Linked DNA regions of Homo sapiens: regions 2, 3, 4, 5, 6 and 7 are each linked to region 1. Evidence: fine-mapped QTL for protein levels in blood plasma. A gene starts in region 1. Each other region holds a variant in brackets. All regions are shown on one strand. Distances are between the middles of the regions.

Region 1 (4,081 bases):
CCTGTGCTGCCCAGTTTGGTCTCAAACTCCTGGGCTCAAGCGATCCTCCTGCCTCAGCCTCCCAAAGTGCTGGGATTATGGGTATAAGATGACTTCTTATCCTGTCTTTCATTTTTCCACTGTTACATGAATTAAGGAACGCTTTTTGTAAGGACTAGTAAGCATTTTCTGAGTAAGATAGGAGATGTGTAAAGAAAAATGAAAACAGAAATGGTCATAGAGGATGTCTTGGGAAGGTGTTTCAGTAGTTTAAAAACACACACACAAGAAGCTTTTATGAATGGGATAATAGGATTGTGGAAACTGGTGAAGTTGATCCTATTTCTCACACTTTGGCAATGCATCTCTTTGTTGTAGGAAATATTCTTTTTTTTTTTTTTTTGGCAGCGATAGATAAGCAGGAAGGATTTTTTAACTCTGTTCATCTAAATTTTCCTGATAAGAACCCCAACAGAGCCGCTATCCAAGGGTTCACCTACCTCCTCGTTGACTATTGACCCCCAGGGGTATCCAGTCTATAGCAAAGGAAGAGAAAAGAGATGTGAGTGACTGCAGCTCTATACCTCGTAACCCTTTTATGAGACAAATCAGAAAATCATGGAGAAATGGTTATACTTTATCTTTGTGACTTATTCCTATATAGCTCAATATAAAATTACTGAGACCATTAGTGCTATGAACAAAACCAATAGGAATAGAAAGACTTCAGAAAGACAAGTTCCTTCACTGCTGTGCATTTGTTTGGTAAAAAGAAAAAAAAGACAAGTTCCTGAGAACAAAGCCCTGCTGCCCTCTTACCCTCATTCCTGGCCAGGAATGAAGTCCAGCTCCACTGAGAGGCCTGGCAGCCCTTCTAGCCCCACGGCTTCCCCGCTAGCTATGCTAGTGAACAAGACAGAAGAATTATTTTTCTCAATCTGTATCGGAAGAAGGAGGGAAAAAAATAGAGTAGGACATCTTTACAGCCTAAAGTTCACTTTCTGTGGCCAGTCTTCTAGCCAGATTCTGGGAAATCTGTGAAGATCACTTTTCTCTTGTGTGTCAGTATGGCATATATTTTTTGCATGCATGTGAGTATACCTGCATGCATGATGGTAATAGTGTATGTATTCCCACTGTTCTTCTTCAAGATTTACATTTGGTCCAGTTTCTTTTTTTCTTTTTTCCTTTTTTTTTTTAATGGAGATGAGGTTAACTCATCTCACTATGTTGCCCAGGTTGGTCTCAGTGATCCTCTCCACTCAGTCTCCCAAAGTGCTAGGAGTATAGGTGTGAGCCCACCATGCCCAGCCCAGGTCCAGTTTCTTTCTAGGTAGTCCCTCCTCTATGTTTGTGTATGCATTTGTATATCAGCTTCTTTTTTGCTTTGCAATTTGTTTACTCATATGTGACCCTCTTTGGGTGGTTAATATGCATTTGTGTGTATCTTAGTTGCACCTTAGTTTCATAATTCTTGGGAGGCCTTTCCCCTAGTCTGAAGTCTAGTCACATTCCTGAACTTTTTTTCTTAACACAAAATCTGTTCTTCTAATAGGAATTCCAGAGCTCAATACCAAGCATCTCTACTGCTATTCCTCTTCGACCTCATTCCATCCCATCTCCTGCCACACACGTGTATAGCTGAGGAGCTGAGGGTTTAGGGAGCAAAGAATAAAGGACTCACCAGAGGTGATGATGAATGCAGCAAGAAACAGCAGCACCTTGGGTCCCAAGAGCGACATATCTATAGGGGTGGTGGGCATAGCAGAGAATGTGATGCTCAGAGGCACATCAGCATTTCAGTGCCAGGGAAAGATGCCTCTGAGGTCCCTGTCTCTTTGTCTTCCCAGAACTTTCTTCATTTTCCCTTATGACTCAAACCCTTTCTCTCTTTTCTTACCTTTCACCCAACATTCATTTCTCCCTCAAATCTATTCCTTGGTCACTTACCATTATTCTTGCTTTTATTATTCTCTGCTACCAAGTCAGAGGAAATTTTACATTCTACATGGTCCGTACTTGGCCCTACCCTTTGGCCTCTTTCACCCCTGATGTGGAATCTTCCTTTCTCATATGCGTGACTTTTTCATATCATCTGCTCATCTTGGCGTCTCCTTCATCAGAATTCCACGGTTATTTGGGAGGTCTGCTCAAGACTAAGTTCAGTGACATTCCCCATTGCCCCCTCCAGCCCTTTCACACACACACAGACATACACACATTCCCTCTGTCTCTTTAGGGTTTCAGGTAATCAAATAACTCACTGTCTATGGTGTTCTGCTCTTTCCACCGAGTCCTTTGGCTGCTGAATGTGTCTCTCTCCTCTTACGCTGTTCCTACTTTGGCTGGCGAATAAGATGAACAGAGCCACTCCCTGGAAAGGACTTCAGATTTGGCCTCCGCTGAAACAATGAGATGAGGGAGAGCAAGAAAGCCAGGCTAGGCGTAGAATGTGTGTTACAATGAGGCTGGAATGAGAAGGGAGATGGGAATTTGCAGTTGCTCACACCCTCATTCCAAATGTTATGACTACACTGGTGAGAGCTCTTGCTGCTCCCTGGAAGTGTTGGCCCCAGCTCATGTATTGCCTTTCTTCCATTAGCCTATTTTCCCTCCTCTCACGATCTGGTCCCAGCTCCCCTTTGTTCCTTGGGTTCTTTCTTACCGAAAAGTTCCGTCTCCTCCTTGGTGTGTTTTAATGCACATTATAGATGCTGTTTCTCTCTCTCTGGCTATCTTCTTCTTCTTTGTTTTTTGTTTTTTTTTTTTAAGACAGAGTTTTGCTCCTGTCACCCAGGCTGGAGTGCAATGATGTGATCTTGGCTCACTGCAACCTCCGCCTCCTGAGTTCAAGCAATTATCCTGCCTCAGCCTCCTTATATTCCATATTTGAATCATTCCTTCATCCTTCTTTCTCACTTTCTTTTTCAATATTCGTCTCTTCAGCACTAACAAATTTCTTTTTATTCCTGTATTTCTTTTTCATCTCTGCCTCTTTCTTGACCTACACATTTAGACTCTTCTTGTTTTTTTTCCCCTTGGAATATCCTATGTATTCTCACAACCAAGCGAACACAGATACCTTATGAGTTTTGTCCAAGAGGAAGGCTGGCTACCTTAGGGTTATAAAAAGTTGAGGAACTTTTCAGAACTCTCCAAATCATTTTCAAATGTAGAGAAGCTCTGTGAAAGGGGTGCCAGCCTTACTTTGTCTTTTGGCTTTGTTTGAGCTTAACTAAGAATCTGGGTTTCTGGGCTCTTAAGGATAAAATGCAATCAGATGCCCAAAGAAAATTGAAAGGCAAGGTTATTATGCTTGCCTCATTTTCTACCAATATTTTTCCTTAGATCATATAATGTGTAGATAACACTTTCTCTGATCCAGGATTTTTTCTTTTTTTTAAGATAGGGTCTTGCTCTGTCACCCAGGCTGGAGTACAGTGGCATGATCACAGTTCACTGCAGGCTTGACCTGGGCTCAAGTGATCCTCCTGCCTCAGCCTCCTAAGTCGCTGGGACTACAGGTGCATGCCACTATGCCAGGCGAATTTAGATGTATTTTTTTGTAGAGACAGGATTTTGCTATGTTGCTCAGCCTTGATTCAGGAATTTTAAAGGCTTTGTATTTCTTCTTATTCACAGAGACTCTAGTGGTTCAACCACTAAAACATTCCCGCTTTGGATTCAAGAGCAAACTTGAATTACAGAAACTCAAGTCTGAGGAATGGTGGACCTTGTATGCCATAGAAATATGTAAGTTTCAGGTTTCCTGTTGGCTCCCCTTTAGTCTACATTATATATCTCCCTGATGAAATAAATTAGAGAAGAGTACAGGTAGACAGAGAGCAGATAGTATTAATAAATTACATACTAGAAGAAAATAAAAGGGGGTATGATGGAAGGAAGGAAAGAAGGAAAGAAGGAAGGAAGGAGTCTAGTTGAGAGGAAAAAAGAGCAGTGGACACAGAAATAAGCAAATCGCACTTTGTAAGCACCTCTGGGACCTCCGAGGGAGCTGTAAGTGCTACATCTCTAAGATACATGGAATCTGGTCAGTCCGCAGAACAAGCTGAGTGCTACGCCCAGCTCTTCCTGATCTTCC
Region 2 (4,081 bases), 920 kb after region 1:
AAAAAAACAACCCCATCAAAAAGTGGGCGAAGGACATGAACAGACACTTCTCAAAAGAAGACATTTATGCAGCCAAAAAACACATGAAAAAATGCTCATCATCACTGGCCATCAGAGAAATGCAAATCAAAACCACAATGAGATACCATCTCACACCAGTTAGAATGGTAATCATTAAAAAGTCAGGAAACAACAGGTGCTGGAGAGGATGTGGAGAAATAGGAACACTTTTACACTGTTGTTGGGACTGTAAACTAGTTCAACCATTGTGGAAGTCAGTGTGGCAATTCCTCAGGGATCTAGAACTGGAAATACCGTTTGACCCAGCCATCCCATTACTGGGTATATGCCCAAAGGACTATAAATCATGCTGCTATAAAGACACATGCACACGTATGTTTATTGCGGCATTATTCACAATAGCAAAGACTTGGAACCAACCCAAATGTCCAACAATGATAGACTGGATTAAGAAAATGTGGCACATATACACCATGGAATACTATGCAGCCATAAAAAATGATGAGTTCATGTCCTTTGTAGGGACATGGATGAAATTGGAAAACATCATTCTCAGTAAACTATCGCAAGAACAAAAAACCAAACACCGCATATTCTCACTCATAGGTGGGAATTGAACAATGAGATCACATGGACACAGGAAGGGGAATATCACACTCTGGGGACTGTTGTGGGGTGGGGGGAGGGGGGAGGGATAGCATTGGGAGATATACCTAATGCTAGATGACGAGTTAGTGGGTGCAGTGCACCAGCATGGCAGATATATACATATGTAACTAACCTGCACAATGTGCACATGTACCCTAAAACTTAAAGTATAATAAAAAAAAAATTACTGACTGTGGTAAAAGGTTGGGAAAGATGTCTTTCAAGATGTTTCCTAAAACAAAATTCTGTAATAATTAAAGTGACACTTACCATGTTCTAGACACTTCTAAGTGCTTTACATGTGAACCTCAGTTGAAGCTCACTATCAGTCCTAAGTGGTAATTATGATTGCTATTGTACCCATTTTACAAATGAGGAAACTGAAGCATAGAGGGATTAGTTAAGTTGTTCAAGGTCAGGTAGCTAATAAGTGGCAGATTCCGGATGAGAACTCATCAGGCTGGCTTCAGGGACTGTACTTCTTAACCAGTAAGAATGTTGGTTTCTTAGGTTGTATATGTAATGTGGCTTGCCCTAATATTCAAATATTTGTATTCTAATTCCGAAATTTTCAATGCCTCTGTGATTCTATATATTACTTTACCTCTCAAGCCTGTTTTCCTTAGTTGAGTTAGTTGCCAAAAGTTAAATTAGTCTCTGAGTTCATTACCAGTTCTGGCTTCTTAGAATTTAGTGAACATAAGAGTCTATTATTAAAAAGTCAAAAACTAACAGATGCTGGTGAGGTTGCAGAGAAAAGGGAACACTTATGCACTGTTGGCAGGAATGTAAATTAGTTCAACCATTGTGGAAAGCAGTATGACGTAGCTAAAAACAGAGCTACCATTCGACCCAGCAATTTCATTACTGGGTATATTCCCAGAGGAATATAAATCATTCTACCATAAAGACACATGCACACGAATGTTCATTGCAGCACTATTTACAATAGCAGAGACATGAAATTAACCTAAATTTCCATTAACGACAGATGGGATAAATAAAATGTGGTACATATACACCATGGAATACAATGCAGCCATAAGAAAGAATGAGATCATGTCTTTTGTAGGAACATGATCATGTCTTTTGTAGGAGGCCATTATCCTTAGGAAACTAACGCAGGAACGGAAAACCAAATACAGCATGTTCTCACCTGTAAGTGGGAGCTAAATGATAAGAACTCATGGACACAAAGGGAACAACAGACACTGGAGCCTCTTTAAGGGTAGAGTGTGGGAGGAGGAAGAAGAACAGAAAAAACAGCTATTGAGTACCAGGCTTAAGATCTGGATGATGAAATAATCTGTACAATAAACCCCTGTGACATGAGTTTACTTATATAACAAACCTGCACATGCACCCCTGAACCTAAAATTAAAGTTAAAAAAAAAAAGCAAAGGAAAAAAATAGTCTATGCCCATGGTTGAACTCAGGTTGCAAGTAGAAAGTGGTTCTTTGGGGTATGAAAAGAAAACTGTAATTTAAACTTTTTTTTCTCATAAGCTATTTGTATTGAAATAGATTACAGATTGTAAGTGGGCAAGAACTATGTTATGTATTGTTGTACCTAACTGTGGTCATACCTTGCAACCCACTGAGTGACCAAAATGCACCTTCTCGATTGTAAATATTTAGTATTAACATGATGATAATAAATAGATGGACTAATCAGTTCAC[G/A]AAAACTTGCTGTTTGGCCAAAATCACTTAATACTAATGTGAGAAAGGACGTAAAAATAACCTTGCATTCTGTGATTTCTGATTCTTCCAAGATATCACAGCCACAGCTCTGTCTTGAGAGAGTCAAGAATGAGGGCTATTTATTTTGTGATGTTACAGGTCTGCCCACATCAGTGCCCACCAGGAAAACTGCTGCTTGTGTTATCAAGAATTTAAAGGTAAGAAACCATATCTATGTAGGTAAATTTTTAGACTCTATTCAGGAGATTGTTTGTAGGGGGTTAGGTTAAGTATTATTATATTTTGTAGAGCTTGATAATAGTTATCTAGATAATCCCTGGAGAATTAAACAAAGCGGTGTTGAAGATGTCCTGCTTATGTATTGTGTTAAAATTCAGTTTATACTTGGTTTGAAGTGGGAGTGAAAAATTTAGCCTGAAGACATGTATATTTAATTTGTTGTTCAAACAAGCTTGGGGTTTGTAGGTTTTGATTATTTTTGAATATTGAGTAAACTCGGTAATACAGTGTATTCTTTCCATTCAAATCCTGAGAAAATATATTGGCACTGCCAAATGCAGGCATGCTCAATGAGTAATGAAACTAATTTGGTGTTCGTATTGGTCAGGATCCATTTAGAAGACAGAAATCATACCAGCAATCTAACAGGAAAATTTATATAAAGAATTATCAGCATGGTTGAACCTGGGAATTAATATAAATGATTGAACAGTTTTGGTTCATTATTTACAGAGAAACATGAATATGTATACAAGATACTAATTAGTATCTGTTATTTAAGGACATCTTAATACTTTACTAGGATGACAAATTCAATATCATATAGACATTGCTCTATTTAACATACTTATCAGTTAATTATTATATTTTTAAGGCTTTAGTTAAATTTATCATCTATTTGCATATATATATCTTTATATGTGAAAACGCATGCATAGAAACATGTTAAATTCTTTACTGTAAATGTTCACATAAATAGTACACATTAGTAAAATTAGATTTGTCCTTTTTTTCTGTAAAATGAGCAAATTTTCTGTGTTCAGATAACAGATACCCATTTTTTTCTAGCAATCTATTCTGATAACTTTGCTCTTGATGTATTTTAACAAACAACTTGTCTTTGGGAATGTTAAAAGTTCCTGATAATCTTTGCCTTTGTGGTGGTATATCTATAAAACACAGTATTGTGTTTATATCTTGTTTCTTTTGACCATACTCAATTTTGCCTTTCTGAAATTTAGGCCCCAAATTAGAAAGAATAGAATGGTTGTGAAGTCTTTTTATGTACAATCAAGTTTTCAGGTTTCTTGGAAAGGCCCCCAAGTAACATATTTTTTCCTTTGTTTTATTCAAAGAAATGAGGAAAGAATAATAAAAATAATCTACTTTGTTTGTATTCAAAATTTGATCATTTTACAGCCACTGTGAGAATACTTTTGTTTAACAAGTATAAGTCAAAATTTAAAAACTGGTTAATCTAGAAGAAAGTGCTGTCTTCTTAGGTTGATTACAAATGTTGAAAGATACAATGTAAATGTGTTTCAATGATTGTATACTTTTCAAATTAAAAGATGCATACTCATATTTAAGCATAGACTGGTATAATTGTTTACAAAAATATTTTGCTTTTTAGAGCCTAGATTTATAAACTCTTGTCAATTAGTGGCATTCTTTTTTTTTTTTTTTTTTTTTTTTTTGAGACGGAGTCACT
Region 3 (4,081 bases), 960 kb after region 1:
TCCTCAGGCAGCCCTCAGACAAGCCAGAGCATTAGATGCATGGTCCACTTTTTTGTTTTCATCAGGAGAGAGAATCCGCTGTATGGGGTGGTTCCTCCCAGTTGCTTCACAGTATATTGCATAAAGGAGGGACATGAATGGGCGTGTCGAATGTCACAAATTTTTTCTATCCTTTTTCTGGGGGGGAATCCTTTCTTGGTTTTATAATGGGCTGGTGCTTCAGCTTCTCCAGTAGTCTCTAAAGTTGCCACAGCAATGGGCCTGTGGGGAAGAGAGTCCCATAATTTCCTATTCTGCTCTCTTGCTAATGTCATCCCTTCCTTTTTTCATTTTTAAGCCTAAAGTAGATTCTCTTAGCTCATGATTAACACTTGCTGACTTTTGTATCTTTACCTTCTTGCACAAAATTATCCTCTTAATCACTTCTTTTTGTGGCCACCTTCTGGGCTCTATTGTGGCTCTTCATTTTCAACAGTTACATTGTTTTTATTTTACTGTATTTTCCTGTCCACCCACCCCAGTGCCCACTGCTGACCTGGCAAAGTTCAATGTCAAAAATAGGTAATCTAGTCAAAAACTTGTCTTTATTGTTCCTCGAGCTGCTCAATTATTACCTCTACTATTACTACATTATAAATCTTAGGATCACATATACTCATTAATTCTTTGAATTTTTTAGCTTTCATATTATATTGTGTGTGTATGTGTGTGGGTGTTTTGACAATTCTCTCTCTATTTATATTTTCTCATGATAAGATATTCATAAATTCTGATATGCTTTGCTGTAAAGTGTAATTTGCATAATTAGATCATCAAATGGATTCACTAGCATAAATAGAAAAAAATTATAGGTCTGAATTTTCATGAGGGTTTTATGTATGTGTATATATATAGAGAGAGATAGAACATATATGTTTATAGGCACATTGTAATAATATATTATATATTACATATGTATATACAGTATATACACACATTAAAAATTGTATAACAAGAATCTGTTGTGATAGAAGAAAATTGCGCAGGTGATTGGTTGTTGCTCTTCATACTCTGTAACAAGCAAAATGATCAATCAATATGTTTCATGCCATGTATGGACAAGTGAAGCCTCTTCTTTGGTTGATATTTCTAACTAGTTTATACTTTTGCACCTTATAGGCTTTTGCAAGCATCTGTTTGAAGAGAATGGCTTACCTCAAATCAGTTGTTTTTGGTATGGCCATTGTAGATTCCTAGTAGTCACAGTCATGCTTCAGAACTTGAAGTTATACTTGAGTGCACTAAACCACAATTTTAATCCCCTAATTACATCATCAGACTTCTAGTCACTCTATTGACCTTTCTAAGATATTCCAACACTTTTCATTTACTTGATGAATGTTTCTTTAAGTGTGGTCCATGAACCACCTGAAATAATTTTTAGCACATTCTCCATTCTAGCTAACTGTACTTTGGGAAGAAAAAGGGGTTTATGTGGCAAGAATCTGCATTATTAACAAGTTTTCAAGTTATTCTTATATATACTATAGTTTGAGATCTTTATATGCACTAAAGCATTATATACTAAAGCTTGAGAATAATGCTATAAATATATTGAATTGTTCAATGCAAATGACCCAGGAGACACTTCCATAATTGTGGCAGACTCTGTGCATCCTAAAAATTTAGATAAGATGTATGGCAGAACCAAATACCCTAGTACCAGTAAAATGACTGTTAGTTATCAAATAGTCATATAGTTAAGAACATTTTCACTGAATCACTAAAGAGTGGATTGTGAAACTCACACACACTTACATCTCACTTCATAATTATCGGTGATCTTTAAGAAATAAGTGTGTGCTCTCATGATAGACACATAATGAAAATGTTCTTCGATGGATAAACACTTCCTGTCTTCTGAGTTCAAAGCCAGAAGACTGTTTCCACTGTCAAGTAATTTGAGCACCTGGTATAATTCTGCTCCAATAATAGGAAGTGACTTTTAGGAAATCTCAGATTTTGCTGTTTTTT[T/C]AACCTGTAATGGGAGAATGTCAGTCTTGGAGACACGTAAGCTCTTTTTTTTTTTAATTTTATATACTTATTTATTATACTTTAAGTTCTAGGGTACATGCGCACAATATGCAGTTTTGTTACATATGTATACATGTGCCATGTTGGTGTGCTGCACCTGTTTACTCATCATTTACATTAGGTATATCTCCTAATGCTATCCCTCCCTACTCCCCCCACCCCACAACAGGCCCCGGTGTATGATGTTCCCCACCCTGTGTCCAAGTGTTCTCATTGTTCAATTCCAACCTATGAGTGAGCACATGCGATGTTTGATTTTCTGTCCTTGCAATAGTTTGCTGAGAATGATGGTTTCCAGCTTCATCCATGTCCCTACAAAGGACATGAACTCATCCTTTTTTATGGCTGCATAGTATTCCAAGGTGAATATGTGCCACATTTTCTTAATCCGGTCTATCATTGATGGACATTTGGGTTGGTTCCAAGTCTTTGCTGTTGTGAATAGTGCCGCAATAAACATGCGTGTGCATGTGTCTTTATAGCAGCACGATTTATAATCCTTTGGGTATATGCTGAGTAATGGGATGGCATTCTAGTTCTAGATCCCTGAGGAATCGCCACACTGTCTTCCACAATGGTTGAACTAGTTTACAGTCCCACCAACAGTGTAAAAGTTGTTCCTATTTCTCCACATCCTCTCCAGCACCTGTTGTTTCCTGACTTTTTAATGATCGCCATTCTAACTGGCGTGACATGGTACCTCATTGTGGTTTTGATTTGCATTTCTCTGATGGCTAGTGATGATGAGCATTTTTTCATGTGTCTGTTGGCTGCATAAATGTCTTCCTTTGAGAACTGTCTGTTCATATCCTTTGCCCACTTTTTGATGGGGTTGTTTGATTTTTTCTTGTAAATTTGTTTAAGTTCTTTGTAGATTCTGGATATTAACCCTTTGTCAGATGGGTAGATTATAAAACTTTTCTCCCATTCTGTAGGTTGCCTGTTCACTCTGATGGTAGTTTCTTTTGCTGTGCAGAAGCTCTTTAGTTTAATTAGATCCCATTTGTCAATTTTGGCTTTTGTTGCCATTGCTTTTGGTGTTTTAGTCATGAAGTCCTTGCCCATGCCTATGTCCTGAATGGTATTGCCTAGGTTTTCTTCTAGGGATTTTATGGTTTTAGGTCTAACATTTAAGTCTTTAATCCATCTTGAATTAATTTTTGTATAAGGTGTAAGGAAGGGATCCAGTTTCAGCTTTCTATATATGGCTAGCCAGTTTTCCCAGCACCATTTATTAAATAGGCAACCATTTCTTGTTTTTGTCAGGTTTGTCAAAGATCAGATGGTTGTAGATGTGTGATATTATTTCTGAGGGCTCTGTTCTGTTCCATTGGTCCATATCTCTGTTTTGGTACCAGTGCCATGCTGTTTTGGTTACTGTTGCCTTGTAGTATTGTTTGAAGTCAGGTAGTGTGATGCCTCCAGCTTTGTTCTTTTGGGTTAGGATTGACTTGGCAATGCAGGCTCTTTCTTTGTTCCATATGGACTTTAAAGTAGTTTTTTCCAATTCTGTGAAGAAAGTCATTGGTAGCTTGATGGGGATGGCATTGAATCTATAAATTACCTTGGGCAGTATGGCCATTTTCACAATATTGATTCTTCCTATCCCTGAGCATGGAATGTTCTTCCATTTGTTTGCGTCCTCTTTTATTTCGTCGAGCAGTGGTTTGTAGTTCTCCTTGAAGAGGTCCTTCACATTCCTTGTAAGTTGGATTCCTGGGTATTTTATTCTCTTTGAAGCAATTTTGAATGGGAGTTCAATCATGATTTGGCTCTCTGTTTGTCTGTTATTGGTGTATAGGAATGCTTGTGATTTTTGCACATTGATTTTGTATGCTGAGACTTTGCTGAAGTTGCTTATCAGCTTAAGGAGATTTTGGGCTGAGACAATGGGCTTTTCTAAATATACAATCATGTTATCTGCAAACCAGTACAATTTGACTTCCTCTTTTCCTAATTGAATACCCTTTATTTCTTTCTCCTGCCTGACTGCCCTGGCCAGAACTTC
Region 4 (4,000 bases), 16 kb before region 1:
AACCTTACTCTAAGTGATTGGACAAGTTGAAAAATAACACCAAATCATTATCAGCTATTAAAAAAAAATGAGGGTTTGAGGTAAAGTGAAGTTCGATTTGTCAACAGGAAGCTGTGGGCTCTGCACCTCTATTTATATAAACATTTGCTTTTTCCATCTTGGGTTCTGCCCAGAATTTGTCGTCTGACTGCTGCTTCTGGGTCTGCTTGACTGGTTTTTAGAGAAAAAAAGAAAGAAAGAAAGAAAGAAAGAAAACAAAACTGTGGCCACCTGTTCCTCTCCTTACCGCAGTCTTAACAAGTCACTTTCCCTGATGTTTGGTTGGTGAAAATGCTCAAAGATACAAGGGCTTCCGTTTTTATCAGAGTATTGCTTTATTAAGTAAGGCCTCCCTGAGCTGACAAAGCTACAAGGACAGTCCTGCCTCTCCTCCACTGTGCTCCTGATGTCTTTCTGTTTTACCCTAAGTTTCCAGATCCCCCAGGACCCCTTCCCCACTTCTCAAATTCCCTTTGAATTTGGAATTTGACAGTTTCCATCTTTTAGCTTCCTGGCTCCCCAACCCTGGTGTCAGCCTGTTGTCACTCTCTCATCTGGCTATCCCCTGGTCTGGTGCCATCTTTGTTCCCACTTCTTTTAGGATTGTTTTCCTTCTTCATTGTGTTACAGCTGCTTCAGTACAAAAGGAAGAGGGATCTTAGAGGTTGTTTGTGCCTTCTCACCAGGTGTAAAGTGGTTAGTTAAACATCTAACTTTGGCCACAAGTACCCTGAAGCAGAGAAGGGAGGAGCTTGTGTCTAGCAACATATACTGCTGTATATGTCATCAAAGTAAGACTCAGAAATTGGGAAACCAGCTGCGGTTTGCACTCTCTGCCATGAGTCAAAACAATACTGAGTGTGCATAGAACTGTATTTAGTGAGTAGAAGACACACTCAAATTTCCAGAATGTGTTCATTTGAGGAGAAAGTAGAATTTTCTTGAATCGTAAGCATGGAATATGGAAAAAGCCTCAGAGTAGAATCAACTCAATTAGAGAAGGGAAAATAAAAGTGAATCTTTATGAATAGGTAGATGAGGCTGCTATCTATTCAGGATACCAGGAGGGCATTCAATATCTACTGATATTTTTACCAAATTCTTTAATTCTAACATTAAAGATCCATTATTTTGGTTTAAAAAATGGCTTTTCATTGAAAGCCATTGCTTAGCAAGGTTGTCATTTGGGCTCACCAGGAAAAAAAATATATTAACACCTTAATGAGTAAAAACTTTCTTCTGAATCTTCTTTTATTTTTTGAGACGGAATTTCACTGTTGTTGCCCAGGCTGGAGTGCAGTGGCATGATCTTGGCTCATTGCAACCTCCACCTCCCTGATTCAAGCGATTCTCTTGCCTCAGCCTCCCGAGTAGCTGGGATTACAGGCACCCGCCACCATGCCTGGGTAATTTTTTTGTATCTTTCTTAGAGACAGGGTTTTATCATGTTGGCCAGGCTGGTCTCAAACTCCTGACCTCAGGTGATCCGCCCACCTCAGCCTCCAAAAGTGCTGGGATTACAGGCGTGAGCCACCACGCCCGGCTGATACACATTTTTTAAAGTGGAATAAAAGTTCATAAATTCAGGCCTTTTTCGTAAACATAGAAGAGAAAAAGAACCAGAACAAAAGACATTTTATTTTGAGAAATAAATTGGAAAAAAATATTTTAAAATGTTTAATTTGCAATATACATAATACTGGAATTGAAATGCTGTCTGATGGAAATGTTGCAATGTGGAGTAGGAGGGTCAAGTTCGTGAAGATATTCTTAAAATTAATCTTGGAAACTCTGTGCCTATGAGGTTTCTCTAAAGTGGCTAAAATATGCATTTAATATGTTGTCTAAATGAGTACATTTAATTCTAGAGACTGTAAGGAGTAGAGATTATATGCTTTGGGGCTTTTTGTAGCATTTTTTTAAAATCAGTTGTACAGATCCCATTAAACGAAATTGTTTCTTAACAGCAAGAATCTGATCATTTAACTAGTTTTCTCAGCAATATAAAAGGAATACAACCTCCACTGTCATATATAACTTGTTGTCTCCTAGCTCCTATTTGAATTCCATTGGCTTTTATAGAAAGTTATTGAGTTAGTCAGACAGAAGGATTCATGATATATAATTTGTCATTTGTTATAATGGGATTTTCTTCTATTCCATTGTGGACTGCTACCCTCACCTAGGATAAAGCAGATATGGTTGCTATGAATTAGACTGTATCTAAGCTTCAAGAAATATGAATAATGCATTTAAATCCAGAGAATCATAGAATTAAAGGAAATCTTAGAACTAAGAATATATATAATATATATATATATTTCTTAAGATGGACTTTTGCTTTTGTCACCCAGGCTGGAGTGCAATGGCGCCATCTCGGCTCACTGCAACCTCTGCCTCCCAGGTTCAATTGATTCTCCTGCCTCAGCCTCCCGAGTAGCTGGGATTACAGGCACGTGCCACCACGCCCAGCTAATTTTTGTATTTTTAGTAGAGATGGGGTTTCACCATGTTGGCCAGGCTCGTCTCAAATTTCTGACCTCAAGTGATCCACCCGCCTCAGCTTCCCAAAGTGCTCAGATTACAGGCATGAGCCACTGCGCCCAGCAGTACTAAGATAAATTTAACCTTCTCATTTTAAAGATGAGGAAATTAAACCAGGACCTAATGAAGGAAAATGGCTTATCCAAGGCTACGTGGTTACTGCTAGAGCCAGGATAAGAATGTGGGTTGTCTGAATATTGTGTTTCTTTCACTCTTTCGTATTAACTATTAGGCAAACTTTCTGTCTGCCTATTAAAATTCAAGTCTGAATGCCCTTCTTAGGCCCCAATCAGGATATCCAAAAGCCACTTGCACAATAATTCGACCGTGCACTTGTTAAGTTGTGAAGATGAACGAAGTAGCAACTCAAGGAAACGTCAACCAATGGTATGATTTCACATTAAGTTGTCTAATTTGCTTTGTGGTGGTGGGTTCATCCCGGTACTACCCATAAACGAATCAGTAAATGAGACTTAGTTTCCAACCTTACTTCCCGACTAGACAACTGCATGAAAAATTGGATAGCGAATTATGAGTCCAAGTTCTATAGCTGGCATAGTCCTCATGCTTTAGCCCCAGCCTCTGAGCTTAGCAGAAGACATTTTGGGTCCTTATATATTGCTAGTAGGATTGTATAATTCTTGACTGTGTTGCAGAATCTTACAGGACTACAAAACTTACCATGATGTGTCTTATAAGGAAGACTTGCCAGGCAAATTTTCGGGCAAGCCAGCAAAATAGTTAAAGTAAGAGTAAAGAGGAACACGTGAATGATGGGGAGTTGGTCTAGGAAAATATTGTGAGGAAAATAAATGAAATTCTATGGTTAGCCCAAATAGACAAAGATAGCTTCTTCAACCCTAAGATCTATATCAGACAGATTCAATAGTAAAGATTATTAGCCTAAAGTTTAGTCTCCCTTGAAATTGTACATAGAATGTTTGTATATAAGCCATATAGTCATCATCTATTCACTGTGTCTATGATATTGAGAAGCAGCAAAATTATGCAATAATATAGACTTTGTATTTTAAGTGCTAGAAAATGAGATAAATGTTATCAGTTTGGGTGAAAAAGTAGAGAGTAGGGGTAAAAGCTGG[A/G]CATTGCAAAAGGATTGGTTTAAGAAATACTGTCTAAGGGTTAGCTGTCAATGGTTGGAGAAGAAGGAGATCCTCCTTCCTCTCACCCATACATTTTTTCTTCTTTCCTCTTTTTCAATGATCACAGACCATTGGGTCTCTGCAAATCCACATTTTCACAGGGAGGAAGTCGGAAGTAATTGGAGCGACGGAGTCTCCTAGGGGGCAGACCAGCCATCTGACGGCAAAGCTCATCTAGAAGAGAAGCAGAACATCATGGGAAGAGAATGCAGAAGATAACAAAGGCTCTTGTTTTAAGGGATAGAGAAGACTTTTCA
Region 5 (4,081 bases), 320 kb after region 1:
TCTTACCATTTTACCTTTTTTTTTTTTTTTTTTTTTTGAGACAGAGTTTCGCTCTTGTTGCCCAGGCTGGAGTGTAATGGTGCAATCTCAGCTCACTGCAACCTCGGCCTCCTGGGTTCAAGCGATTCTCCTGCTTCAGCCTCCAGAGTACCTGAGATTACAGGCGCCTGCCACCACACCTAGCTAATTTTTGTATTTTTAGTAGAGACGGGGTTTCACCATGTTGGCCAGGCTGGTCTCGAACTGGTGAGCTCAGGTGATCCATGTGCCTTGGTCTCCTAAAGTGGTGGGATTACAGCCGTGAACCGCCGTGCCTGGCCCATTTTACCATTTTAAAGATGACATCTCATTGCTTTTCTCCTTTTTTGTTTCTGTTGAGAATTTAGCTATCATTCATGTGTTGTTTCCCATTATTAATGTGTTATTTATTTTCCTCTGGCTGTTTTCAGTATTTTCTTTTTATCTTTGGTTTTTATTAGTTTTAGATTATGTTCTTAGGAGTGATTTTCCTTCTGTTTATCTTGATGCGGATTCAGTGAGTTTCTTATACCTGTAGGTTGTATCCCAAATTTGGGGAATATTTGATCATTACTTTTTCAAATTCCTTTCCGATTTCATTATATGTCCCCTTTATTTTGGGGGACTACAGTTTCACTTTTGTTATACTATTTGGCATTGTTCATAGGTCACTGAGGTTCTGTTCATTTTTTTCTCCCATTTTTTCCCTCTATTCTTCATATTGGATTATTTTTAGCAATCTGTCTTCATGTTTACTGACCTTTTTATCTGCCCTCTTCTATTTGCTATTAATCTCATTCAGCTATTATTATTATTATTATTGAGATGGAGTCTCGCTCTGTCACCTAGGCTGGAGTGCCGTAGTGCAATCTCAGTTCACTGCAACCTCTGCCTCCTGGGTTCAAGTGATTCTCCTGCCTCAGCCTCCTGAGCAGCTGGGACTATAGGCATGTGCCGCCAGGCCAGGCTAATGTTTTATATTTTTAGTAGAGACAGGGTTTCACCATGTTGGCCAGGCTAATATTTTATGTTTTTAGTAGAGACAGGGTTTCACCATGTTGGCCAGGCTGGTCTTGAACTCCTGACCTCAAATTATCCACCTGCCCCCGCCTCCCAAAATGCTGGATTACAGCTGTGAGCCACCGTGCCTGGCCCTCATTCAGTTATTTTTAAAAATTATGAATGCTGTTCTGTTCTGGAATAGTCACTTGATTCTTTTTGGTAGTTTCTACTTCTCTGAGATTCTTCAAATTTTTATTCATTATGACTATATTTTCTTCTAAGTCTTTGAACGTATTTATGCAGATATTAAAGTCCTTGTTTGCTAGTTCCAGCATCTATGTTACATAAGTTTCTTTTCTACTTACTGACTTTTCTTTGATCCATGGCCCATATATTCTTATTTCTTTGGATTCTAATAATATTTTATTGTATGCTAGATATTAAATGTGATGCATTATGGCTAATCTGTGTTATGTATCCTCTTTTTTGAAGAAAAGTTTTATTGGGGAATAATTTCAGATTTACAGAAATGTTTTTAAGATAGCACAGAACATTTCTTTATACCTTTCACCCCATTTCCCCTAATGTTAGCATCTTAAAAAATCATGGCACATTTCTCAAATGTAAGAAATGAATATTGCTACATTGTTTGAATTTTACCAGTTTTCCACTAATGCTCTTTTTGCTGTTCCAAGATCCAATCCAGGATACCACATTACATCTAGTTGTTATATTTATTGTTTTCCTCTGGTCTATGACAGTTTCTCAGTGTTTTTTTTTTTTCGTGAACTTGATATATTTTAAGAGTATTGGTCAGATATTTAGTAGAGTACCACTCAATTTAGAATTATCTGATTTTTTTTTTGCATGTTTACATTGGATGTGTAGGGGAAAACTTTCTTCAGCTGTGTTTTTCTTCTGCTTTCACACCAGCACTACCACAATTATCAACACAGAAGAAGACTTGTGTGACCAAATGTGGTAGGGGTGTTCCCCACATACCAATTAGCAGACACCAACTGGGTATCCTCTAATTCAATTCCGACATTATCTACCTGGAGATAGTGTTAGATCTTACATTTCAGGGATTCAATATGCAAGATCACCCCCTACACCCACAGACACCAGTCACAAGTCTGGGCCTCTGGAACATCTGACCAATAAGCTTCAAGTTGGGATTTCCACAACTTCCCCTTTGAGTTCAGTTAATTTGCTGGAGCAGCTCACAGAACTCAGGGAAACCCTTATGTTTATCAGTTTATTATAAAGTATATTACAAAAGATACAGATGAAGAGAACTGTAGGGCAGGGTATGGGGAAAGGGGTGTGGAGCTTCCATGCCCTCTCTGGGAAGGCTGCTCTCCAGGAATCTCCACAGGTTCAGTCATCTGGAAGC[A/G]TTCTGACACAGTTCTCTTGGGTTTTTATGGAAGCTTCAGGACATCAGCATTCTTGCTGCTGACCCCCTCCCCTTGTCACCCCAGTAAAGGGCAGGACCCTCTCTGGGGAAGGTTTTAAGACCCACAATCAGAAAGGCAGGGGAAAATTAGAGTCCTGCCTTGAGGCAGATGAAAGGAGGGCAGAAGAAGGCCAGAGGCCTTCCCCTTGGGGCCTGACACACTCAACATTATAAGAAAGGACTGTAACAGGGACCATAGGAGTTAGGAGCCAGAAACTGTGGATGAAAACCAATATATACATATGTATAATACCACCCTGGGGTTATGGATTTTGGGGAACAAACCTTACTGGTTAGGTGCTTTTATCATTGCATCATATTAGGGGGTACATGATATCAACAAGACTCATCACTGGTGGTTCACGCAGTGAACCCTGTTCATGTGGTTGAGGTGGTATTTGCCAAGATTCTTTAATGAATAGTTACTATTTCCTTTTATCCATAGTGTACTCTTTGGAAGTGAGTCTCTTATCCCTGACTACCCTCAAAGGGAGGAGAGTTAAATTCCACATCCTGAATGGGGAGTATCTACATATATTATTTGGTATTTTCTGTAAGCAAGATTTGTCACTTCTCACCTATTTATTTATTTAAATCAGTATGGATTTATATAGTTTTTCCCCTTGTGTTATAATTCAACACTGTCATTTATTTTGTTGTTCATATTGTTCCATTGGGAGCTTTTCCAGGTTGGTTTCTGTGTCCTGATATGCTCCCATCTTTTTTTTTTTAACTTGCTTATTTTTTAACATTAAAAGACTGGAAGATCCTCCAAGCTTATTTTGTACTTTCCCTGTCCTGGCCCTAGAATTAGCCATTTCTTCAAAGAGCCCCTGATTCCTATGTTGCCTTCTGATGTGGTTTGGATCTGCATCCCCACCCAAATCTGACGTTGAATTGTAATCTCCAGTGTTGGAGATGGGGCCTGGTGGGAGGTGATTGGATCACGCGGATGGTTTTTCATGAATGGTTTAGTACCATACCCCTAGAGCTGTTCTCCTGATAGAGTTCCTCACAAGACCTGGTTGTTTAAAAGTGTGTAACACCTCCCCGCGTCTCTCTTGCTCCTGCTCTGGCCATGTAAGACATTTCCCTTTGCCTTCCACCATGACTAAGTTTCCTGAGGCCTGCCCAGAAGCAGATGCCACTATGCTTCCTGTACATCTTGCAGAACTGTGAGCCAATTAAACCTCTTTTCTTTATCAATTATTTGGCCTCAGGTATTTCTTTATAGCAGTGCAAGAATGGACTAATACACCTTCCTTTTTTTAAAAAATGATCTTAATTATTTTAAAGCATACAATTCAGTAGTGTTAAGTATTATTATGGACTGAATGTTTGTCTCCCCCAGATTCACATATTGAAGCCCTAATCCTCAGTGTGACTGTATTTGGAGATGGAGTGTTTAAGGAAGTAATTAAGGTTAAATCAGGTTACAAGGGTGGGGCCCTGATCTGATAGGATTAATGTTCTTGTAAGAAGAGAGACCAGAGCCCTCTCTCTTTCTTCCCTTGTGCACACACTGAGGAAAAGCCACTTGAGGATATAGTGAGAAGTCTGCAACCCACAGGGGAAGCACTCTCCAAACACCAACTCTGCTGGCAT
Region 6 (4,081 bases), 290 kb after region 1:
CAATTCAATTTATTTTGACAAATGCATCATAACTGTTATCTGTAATCAAAAAATTTAGAAGATTTTCATCATCCAAGAAAATTTCCTCATGCTCCTATCCAGTCATCTTCTCCTAGTCCTAGAGGCAACTATTGCTCTGATTTTTTTTTTTTTTTTTTTTTTTTTTTTTTTTTTTTTGAGATAGAGTCTCTATCACTCAGGCTGGAGTGCGATGGTGCAAACATGGCTCACTGCAGCTTCGACCTCCCAGGCTCAAATGATCCTCCCAGCTAGCCTGTGGAGTAGGTGGGACCACAGGAGTGTGCTACCATGCTAGGATAATTTTTTTTTATTTTTTGTAGAGATGAGGTTTCCTTATTTTCCCCGAGCTGGTCTTGAATTCCTGGGTTTGAGTAATCTTTCCACCTCAGCCTCCCGAAGTGCTGAGATTACAGGCATGAGCCATCAAGCCTGGTCTTTTGAATTTTTCTTTTTTTTAAATTATAGATTAATTTTGCCTATTTTAGAACTTAGTATAAATGGACAGATACTGATAGTGGTGGGAAGCAGACAAATTCCTAGGTAGATACGGGCGGGTCCCTGGTGAAAACCAACCTTCGAGTCAAAGACCGCCGGAAGCCTGAAAACTCACCTGCCAGTTCTGGGTAGAATCTAAGACCCAAGTGAGAACTCCCGCAATGCCTTTTAGCCAATCAAATGGTGCTTTTTCCAGGCTGCCTATGGACCAATCAGCACACACTCCCCCATTCTGAGCCCATAAAAACTCCCGGACTCAGCTACACAGTGGGACTACCACCTTTGGGTCCCCTCTCTGCTGGGAGCTGTTCTGTTGCTGAATAAACGTCCTCTCTGCCTTGGTTACTCTGCAATTGTCAGTGTAACCTCATTCTTCTTGGACGCAGGACAAGAACTCGGGACCTGCCGAACAGCGGGTGCAAAAGAACAGCAGGTGAAAGGCTGTAGCCCTCCTGCCCTCTCCTGGCACCAGGCGGCCACCCCACGTTATGGGAAGTGGTGGTGGCGCCAGGCCAGCCCAGGAGCCGTGGGCTGGTGGGACTGAACAAGTTGGGACATGCCCCCGTTCGGCAAAGCTTGTGGACAGCAGGAATGAATGAACTGTAACACAAACGAGCTGAGACTCTTCGGGGTGCAGACCTCGGGATTCCCCAAGCCAGAGCTGTAACATGCTGTAACACCCCCCACCGCATTTTTTTTTCTTTTTCTTTTGAGACAGAGTCTCACTCTATCACCCAGACTGGAGTGCAGTGGTGTGATCTTGGCTCACTGCAACTTACTGCCTCCCAGGTTCAAGTGATTCTCCTGCCTCAGCCTCCTGAGTAACTGAGATTACAGGTGCCTGCCACGACTTCCGGCTAATTTGTTGTATTTTTAGTAGAGATGGGGTTTCGCCACGTTGGCCCGGCTGGTCTCGAACTCCTGACCTCACGTAATTCTCCCACCTCAGGCTCCCAAAGTGTGGGGATTACCGGCATGAGCCACTGCACCTGACCTTTGAAGTTCCGCAGTTGCTGGTGTCTTTTGAGTTTTTTGGACGCCACTGCGTTCCCTTCGTTC[A/G]TATGCCAGTGCCCAAGGCAGAAGCTGCTTGCAGTATACCTGATCCAGCCACAGCTTCACATGAAGCTGGTGCCTGGAGGTGATGCCCTGCTGTAGCAGCTAGCATACCTGGCTTGCCCTTGGTGGGTGTGAGATCTGGGCCAGTACCGCTAGCCAAGAGCCAAGCACAGCCTGCCAAGCCCAGTGGGTGGAGCCAGCCCAGTGGTCACGAGTGAATCTTGATCTTGAGCAGGGCCCCCCCGGCCGTGGAGGTCTCTGGCTGTGGAACACCACCAAAAAATCCTGTGTCAATAGCATGTTCCTTTTGCATTTGTTTGATTTCTTTCACTGTAATATCTGTGAACTTGTATGTATCAGTAGTAGGTTTTGTTTTGTGTTTTGGTGGGGTAGTATTACATTTTATGAATACAGTAGCCCTCCCTTCTCCTCAGGGGACATGTTCCAAGGCCCCTGCTGTAGACAGCATCTAACCCAGTTGCCTTCAATGAGAATATGTTTCTGTTCATATCTTCCACCCACAAATTTAATGCCTTTTCTGTCTTAACGAAGCACTTACCGTGGCCCATGGCAGTAACTTCTGCAGTTTGAGTTGCAACAGCAAAACTAGCACACATTCTTTTCCCTTCTTCACAATTTAACAGATAGAGGATTTATTCTTACCATAGATGTTAGCAACCTCGGAATACTTGTTTTGTTTTTTGTTTGTTTGTTTGTTTTGTTTTGTTTTTTTGTTTTTTGTTTTTTTTTAGTAAGTCAAGAACCTTCACCTTTTTATTTAAAGGAAGCACTTTACACTTCTCTTTGGCATGTCTGCATAGCCAGCATTACTACTCTTGCGCTTTGTGGCCATTATTAAGTAAAATAAGAGTTACTTGCACTGCAGTACTGTGGCAGTCAATCTGATAACTGAGAGGGACACTAACGGGCAGGGAGTGTCCCCAGCGTGTTTCCACTGGATGAAGGGGTGATTTATGTCCCAGGTGGGATGGAGCAGGACAGTGCAAGATTTTATCACAGTACTCAGAACAGCATGCAATGTAAAACTTATGAGTAGTTTATTTCTGGAATTTTTCATCTGATATTTTCAGACCTCGGTTGACTACTGGTAACTGAAATTGTAGAAAGCACACCTGCAGATAAGGGTGGGGAACTATCGTATTTCTCATCTTATTCATTCCCTTTTGATGGGCGTTTGGGTTCTATCTGTATTTTCTTCTAAGAAGCCTTATAGTTTTATGTTTATGTCTGTAATTTATTTTTAAATTTTTTTAGAGACAGGCTCTTGCTATAGTACCCAGGCTGGTCTCAAACTCCTGGCCTCAAGCTCTTCTCCCAACATGGCCTCCCAAAGTGTTGGGATTACAAGCATGAACCAGTGTGCCCGGTCTGTGATCTATTTTGAGTTAATTTTTGTGTATAGTTGAGGTAGCACTGAGGTTCCTTTTTTTCCCCATATGGATATATAATGACTTCCTATAACATTGTTTGACTATTTTTCCTCTCTTAATTGCGTCAGAGCTTTGTTGAGAATCAGTTGATTGTATAAATGTAGTTCTGTTTCTGGACTTAATTCTGTTTAGTTGATATCTTTATTATTAAGCTAATAACACACTCCTGATTCTTCTAGTTTTATATTAAGTCTTGAAGAAAGGTATTATAAGTCTTTCTTCTCTTTTCAAGATTGTTTTGGCTATTCTAGGTCCTTTGCATTTCCATATACACTTTAAAAGCAACCTGTCAATTTCTGTTAAAAAATCCTGCTGGGGCAAGGCATAGTGGCTCACGTGTGTAATCTCAGCACTTTGGGAGGCTGAGATGGGAGGATCACTTGGGCTCAGGATTTCAAACCAGCTTGGGCAACATGGTGAGACTCTGTCTCTACAAAAAAACCTAAGAATTAGCTGAGCGTGGTGGCTTGTGCCTATGGTCCCAGCTACTTGGGAGGCTAAAGTGGGAGGATCGCTTGAGCCCAGGAGGTCAAGGCTTCAGAGAGCCGTGGTTGCACCACTGCACTCCAGCCTGGACAACAGAGTGATACCCTGTATCAAAAAAAAAAAAAAATCCTGCTGGGGTTACAATTGGGGTTGATATGAATCTGTAGATAAATTTGGGGAAAATTGACATCTTAATGTTGAGTCTTATAATTCATGAATATGAAACCACCTTTGCAGAACTATAAGTAATGAGAGAAGTCTAATATGGTTGACTCCATCTTGCTTCCAACCTCTCAAGTTAAATTGTTTTTTTGTCCATTCTAATGTGGGGGCCAAGATAACTATAAGAGGAATTTAGTTTACAGTTAAAACCACATTCATAAAACAAAGTTAAAATTATGGTAGGGGCTTGAACTTTGCTGAAGAATAGACATAGTTGAACAATGACCCGCCATTACTTAGCTTGTTTTTGTTATATAAGTTGCTTACTGCCCCAGAGTCTTGTATCTGGGGTCGCAAGATTTAGAGCTTCTCCAACTTCTCCTGTAGGTAATATTACTATTGTAAAACCT
Region 7 (4,077 bases), 1.0 Mb after region 1:
GAGCCACCCTTCTCTTAGGGGCATCTTGGCAGTGGGTCAGATGCTGAGATTCTGGGGAGAGGGCTGTGGATACCAGGCATTTTTTTGGGGGAGAGAAAAATCTCTTCCTAAAGCACTTGAAGGACCAAAACCCCCAGAGAGGAGAGAGGGCCAAAGAAATGAGAAAAATTTTTCTCTCAAGCAATTTTCAAATTATTAAATTTCACAGGAAAGGAGGTTAGGAAGAACTATGTGAAAAACAGACTTGAACTTTTGGCAATCACATGTTGTTCAGGAGACAAAACCAAATTCAACTTCCAAGAAAGAGAAGCAGCTTTGATAAAAAGCAGGTTCTCAGATGGAATTACTAGAAGGCTTTATCATAGGTCCTAGGACAAACTAGAAATGATGAAATAGTAAAGAAAAAGATATATAAAATCTTACAGAAACTGGAACTCAGTCCTAATGCAACTTCATTTCTATTTGATAAAGGCAATAGCTGTCCAATCTGGAACTTATTTCTTACAGGTAAGGGGGGCTACTGTATAGAATTCAAAAGCAGGGAAAATATGTTGTCAGAGTTAAGATAGAGATTGTATTTGGGGTAATGAGCGTTGCAGGACATGAGTAGGGCACATAGCGTGTTGGTATTGTTTTACGTGGTTTTAAGATATACTTCATCTAGGCACTTGTTACATGTTATATTTTTAATGAATGTGTTTAGTTGTATGCTTATGATTTGTGCACATTACTATAAATTATATTTTAGTAAAAGGTGCCCTTACTGGCATTTATATACAAGAAATCAACACATCTGACAAGAAGCTCTTGCTGCTAAAGAGCCTCTGTGCTCCTGGATCATGCCAGAGGGAGCACAGAAGCTGCACACCGTTCAAGCCCATTTTTGAAAAGTTGTTGTAGCAGCCATAGCAGCAAATTCCCAAAATATCTTGAAGAAATTGAAAACAAGATATTTTTTGAATGAGCGTAAACTCTTGGGAATGAATTTTAATTTGAGATTAAAATTGCTGTTGTCTTTACTTACCTAACATTCATTTCCTCTGAGAGCCAACTCCTTCCTTTCAATAAATTCTTATTTTCTATCATAATATTGCTTTGTACCGCACAAAATACAATTATAATTTTTAATAGTCAAAGAAATTTTAAGTTATCAAACATTAGTTTCTTTCGTAACCAAAATACTGTTAGAGAAGTAGCTTCAACTTTTTAAAATTCTTACAAACACCAGTTTATTCTGTTGTGATGAGCTGATTTTTGAAACAATTTATGCTTCATTTGTTCCTCTAGCTATATTTAACTTAAAGGCTTGACATTTTGAGTTACTGGGGCGGTTACACACTTACACGTTTTAGTCGTTGGGCTTTTTTTTTGTTTTGTTTTGAATCATTCTTGGGGTTGAAAACGTAGAGACTGTGGTTTAGATCACTCATAGAAACTGGAGGCAAAATGCATGACAGTAACAATGTGGAGAAAGACATTACACCATCTGAATTGCCTGCAAACCCAGGTAAGAAGCTGGGCTCTACAGAGTAAGTGTGAGGACTGGAATGGGAAGGTAGTGGTAGTGATGGGCTCACACAGGAA[A/T]GGTGCTGATCTAGTAAAAAGTTTTCAAGGATAAGAGATGGAATGTGGGAGTCCATAAATTGGCTTATAATTTGTGTAAAACATGCATATATTTATATTCCCAGTTCTAACAACTAAGGAGAGGGAACAATGAGAGAAAGATGTAAGACAATGAGATAAGGTTAAGTTTAGGATTGAAAATAACAGTTAATTTCACTAAAAAAAAATCTATACAAACTCTAAAGTGTTACTCAGATACAAGATACCATCATTATTACATAGGTAGAAAACCTATCATGGAAGCTCTTAAGAGAGAAAAGGTAGAAAATAGTATGTAAAGGACATTTACAAATCAAAAAAGTAACAAAGGTTGAGTAGAAACTTAGTAGGGCATTCTAATGGAATTATGTTACATTGGATGCACTGGAAATATATATATATATAGCTTTATATGATGCTTTAGTAAGTGAAAAAAATGACTTTTGCCACAGTTAGGGAATATCAAGGTTTTATAACTTAGGACTTAAAAGTTTGGAGTTTTCTCCTCCCAACTTAAAAGGTAATCAATTTGGAGAAAAGGTAATTCAGAGGCAGAAAAAGATGAACTCTAAATGTTGTTAAATGACTTCATTTATTTCTTCATTCATTGGGTATTTTGAGCATTTTATACCAAATGCTTTAAACTGTTTGTCGGATAGTTCCAACATCTCTGTCATGTCCTCCTTGGCTTGTGTTTTCTTTCCCCATGGAAGTTGACATTTTCGTGGTTCTTCATATACTGTGTAATTTTGGATTGTAATTTGAACATTTTGAACAAATATTTAGTTAGACTGGATCTTATTTAAATTTTGGAGTATATTGATACTATTGTTTTAGCAAGCAATCACCCTGGTGAGATGAAGACAATCTGTGGGATCTGGTTCCAATGTCAGTTCCATTCTGAAAGCCTTTGTAGTGCTATTCAGACATGTGCATCAACCAGGGGTGAAATTGGGAACTGTGCAATGCTCTACTCATTAGTTCAGGTCTTAGCATCTTTAGTGTGCCAATTAGAACCATATCTAGGCATGCATAAGTTGAGGGGCAGGTGAATCCAGGAGTTTATGAATAATGTTCATGGGTCTCTTTCTAAAGTTTCTTCCTCTTCACCATCTGACCCGTACTTTCAGGTTCCCAGGGGCTTCTCCTTTCCATCCTCCAGCTAGAAATGCGGGCCTCCTTTTATTCTGATGAACCATATACTTCTGCAATTATAGCTGCATCTTTAAGCTCATGTGGCAGACGGACAGTGAGAAAGAAGAAAAAAAAAGCAAGAGGTTTGGCCCCACTCTCATGGAGCTACAGCTCAACTGAATGGAAAGGATTGACTTTAGATTTCTTTTCTTTTTTTGAGGTGGAGTCTCACTCTGTCCCCCAGGCTGGAGTGCAGTGGCGCGATCTCGGCTCACTGCAAGCCCCGCCTCCTGGGTTCACGCCATTCTGCCTCAGCCTCCTGAGTAGCTGGGACTACAGGCGCCCGCCACCACGCCCGGCTACTTTTTTGTATTTTTAGTAGAGACGGGGTTTCACCGTGTTAGCCAGGATGGTCTCGATCTCCTGACTTTGTGATCCGCCCGCCTCGGCCTCCCAAACTGCTGGGATTACAGGCGTGAGCCACCGCGCCCGGCCGAGGATTAACCTTTCTCAAGGTTTTGGCTATTGCATGTTGCTGTAGTTTCCCCTACCATCATCAGATTGCCTGAGGTTTGAGGCACATGAGAATGTAGACAAGAGGGGGAGAAAAAATAAACGTGGTATTTTCACACTCTATTTGAGATAGGAGTTTGCTTTTCTGTTCCTCAGACCATACCTCTAGTGCTTCTCCTGGAGCCCTCTCTTTATGCTGACAGAGGCTCAATTCCATGTTTCTGGCTGTATTAAGTTCGGGGCAGTGATACTAGAGGAGGGAAATTTAAATTCACCACTGGTTTGATGGCTCTTTAAATTTGGATATTCTTGTAAGATCTGCTGCTAGTATATCCTTTTTCCTTTTGCTCTTTTTTGTTTTGTTTAAAGACCATATTTTTAGAGCCATTTTGGGATCACAGCAAAATTGTGAGAAAGGTAGTTTTTTTTTTCATTTTCTCCTTGTTGCCACACATATATAGACTCTGTCTTAGTCTGTTTTGTGCTGCTATTACAGAATACCCAAGACTGGGTAATTTATAATGAACAAAATCTATTGGCTCATAGTTCTGGAGGCTGGAAAGTTCAAGACTGAGAAACACATCTTGCTCCATCATCCCATGGCAAAATTTGGAAGGGCAAGAGAGCACATGCATAAGAAAGAGAGAGAGCAAGAGGCACCAAACTTGCTTTTATAACAAATCCACTTTCGTGATAGTAAACCCACTCCCATTATAAGGACATTATGACCTGATTACCTCTTAAAGGACCTGCCTCTCAACACTATTGCATTGGGGATTAAGTATCTAACACATGAACTTTGGAGACACATTCAAACCATAGCAGTCT

Direction of the effects. Alleles are on the strand shown, and positions count from the first base shown. The strength of an association depends on the size of the effect and on how common the allele is. Not every link is listed here.
For the plasma level of the protein whose gene starts at base 2,443 in region 1, G is the high allele of the variant in region 2 and A is the other (moderate association).
For the plasma level of the protein whose gene starts at base 2,443 in region 1, allele C in region 3 goes with a lower level than allele T (weak association).
For the plasma level of the protein whose gene starts at base 2,443 in region 1, allele A in region 5 goes with a higher level than allele G (moderate association).
For the plasma level of the protein whose gene starts at base 2,443 in region 1, allele A in region 6 goes with a higher level than allele G (weak association).
For the plasma level of the protein whose gene starts at base 2,443 in region 1, T is the low allele of the variant in region 7 and A is the other (weak association).

What was found. PIP is the posterior inclusion probability: the model's chance that the variant is causal. The UK Biobank Pharma Proteomics Project read protein levels with antibody pairs (Olink). The fine-mapping took linkage between variants from a reference panel, not from the people measured, so its PIPs are less certain.
Region 2: its variant is fine-mapped to the plasma level of the MFAP5 protein (UK Biobank, PIP above 0.99).
Region 3: its variant is fine-mapped to the plasma level of the MFAP5 protein (UK Biobank, PIP above 0.99).
Region 4: its variant is fine-mapped to the plasma level of the MFAP5 protein (UK Biobank, PIP above 0.99).
Region 5: its variant is fine-mapped to the plasma level of the MFAP5 protein (UK Biobank, PIP above 0.99).
Region 6: its variant is fine-mapped to the plasma level of the MFAP5 protein (UK Biobank, PIP above 0.99).
Region 7: its variant is fine-mapped to the plasma level of the MFAP5 protein (UK Biobank, PIP above 0.99).

The regions. Positions count from the first base shown.
Region 1 is chr12:8,660,384-8,664,464 of GRCh38, forward strand. MFAP5 (microfibril associated protein 5) reads right to left here and starts at 2,443. Exons shown (of 10, transcript NM_003480.4): 1 at 2,244-2,443; 2 at 1,664-1,723; 3 at 480-515. The coding sequence starts at 1,721.
Region 2 is chr12:9,581,598-9,585,678 of GRCh38, forward strand. No RefSeq gene overlaps it. Among named protein-coding and RNA genes, the nearest start is that of KLRB1, 24 kb to the right of the region's middle. The variant G/A (reference allele first, on the strand shown) is at 2,350.
Region 3 is chr12:9,625,215-9,629,295 of GRCh38, forward strand. It overlaps the pseudogene LOC374443. Among named protein-coding and RNA genes, the nearest start is that of KLRB1, 19 kb to the left of the region's middle. The variant T/C (reference allele first, on the strand shown) is at 2,014.
Region 4 is chr12:8,644,287-8,648,286 of GRCh38, forward strand. It overlaps MFAP5 (microfibril associated protein 5), which reads right to left. Exons shown (of 10, transcript NM_003480.4): 10 at 1,657-3,917. The coding sequence ends at 3,805. Among named protein-coding and RNA genes, the nearest start is that of MFAP5, 17 kb to the right of the region's middle. RefSeq lists enhancers at 433-955, 597-656, 3,591-4,000. The variant A/G (reference allele first, on the strand shown) is at 3,684.
Region 5 is chr12:8,983,381-8,987,461 of GRCh38, forward strand. It overlaps a transcript of KLRG1 not described here. Among named protein-coding and RNA genes, the nearest start is that of KLRG1, 4.1 kb to the right of the region's middle. The variant A/G (reference allele first, on the strand shown) is at 2,417.
Region 6 is chr12:8,955,236-8,959,316 of GRCh38, forward strand. It overlaps a transcript of KLRG1 not described here. Among named protein-coding and RNA genes, the nearest start is that of M6PR, 7.6 kb to the left of the region's middle. RefSeq lists an enhancer at 594-1,793. The variant A/G (reference allele first, on the strand shown) is at 1,576.
Region 7 is chr12:9,668,289-9,672,365 of GRCh38, forward strand. CLEC2D (C-type lectin domain family 2 member D) reads left to right here and starts at 1,425. Exons shown (of 5, transcript NM_013269.6): 1 at 1,425-1,507. The coding sequence starts at 1,447. The variant A/T (reference allele first, on the strand shown) is at 1,585.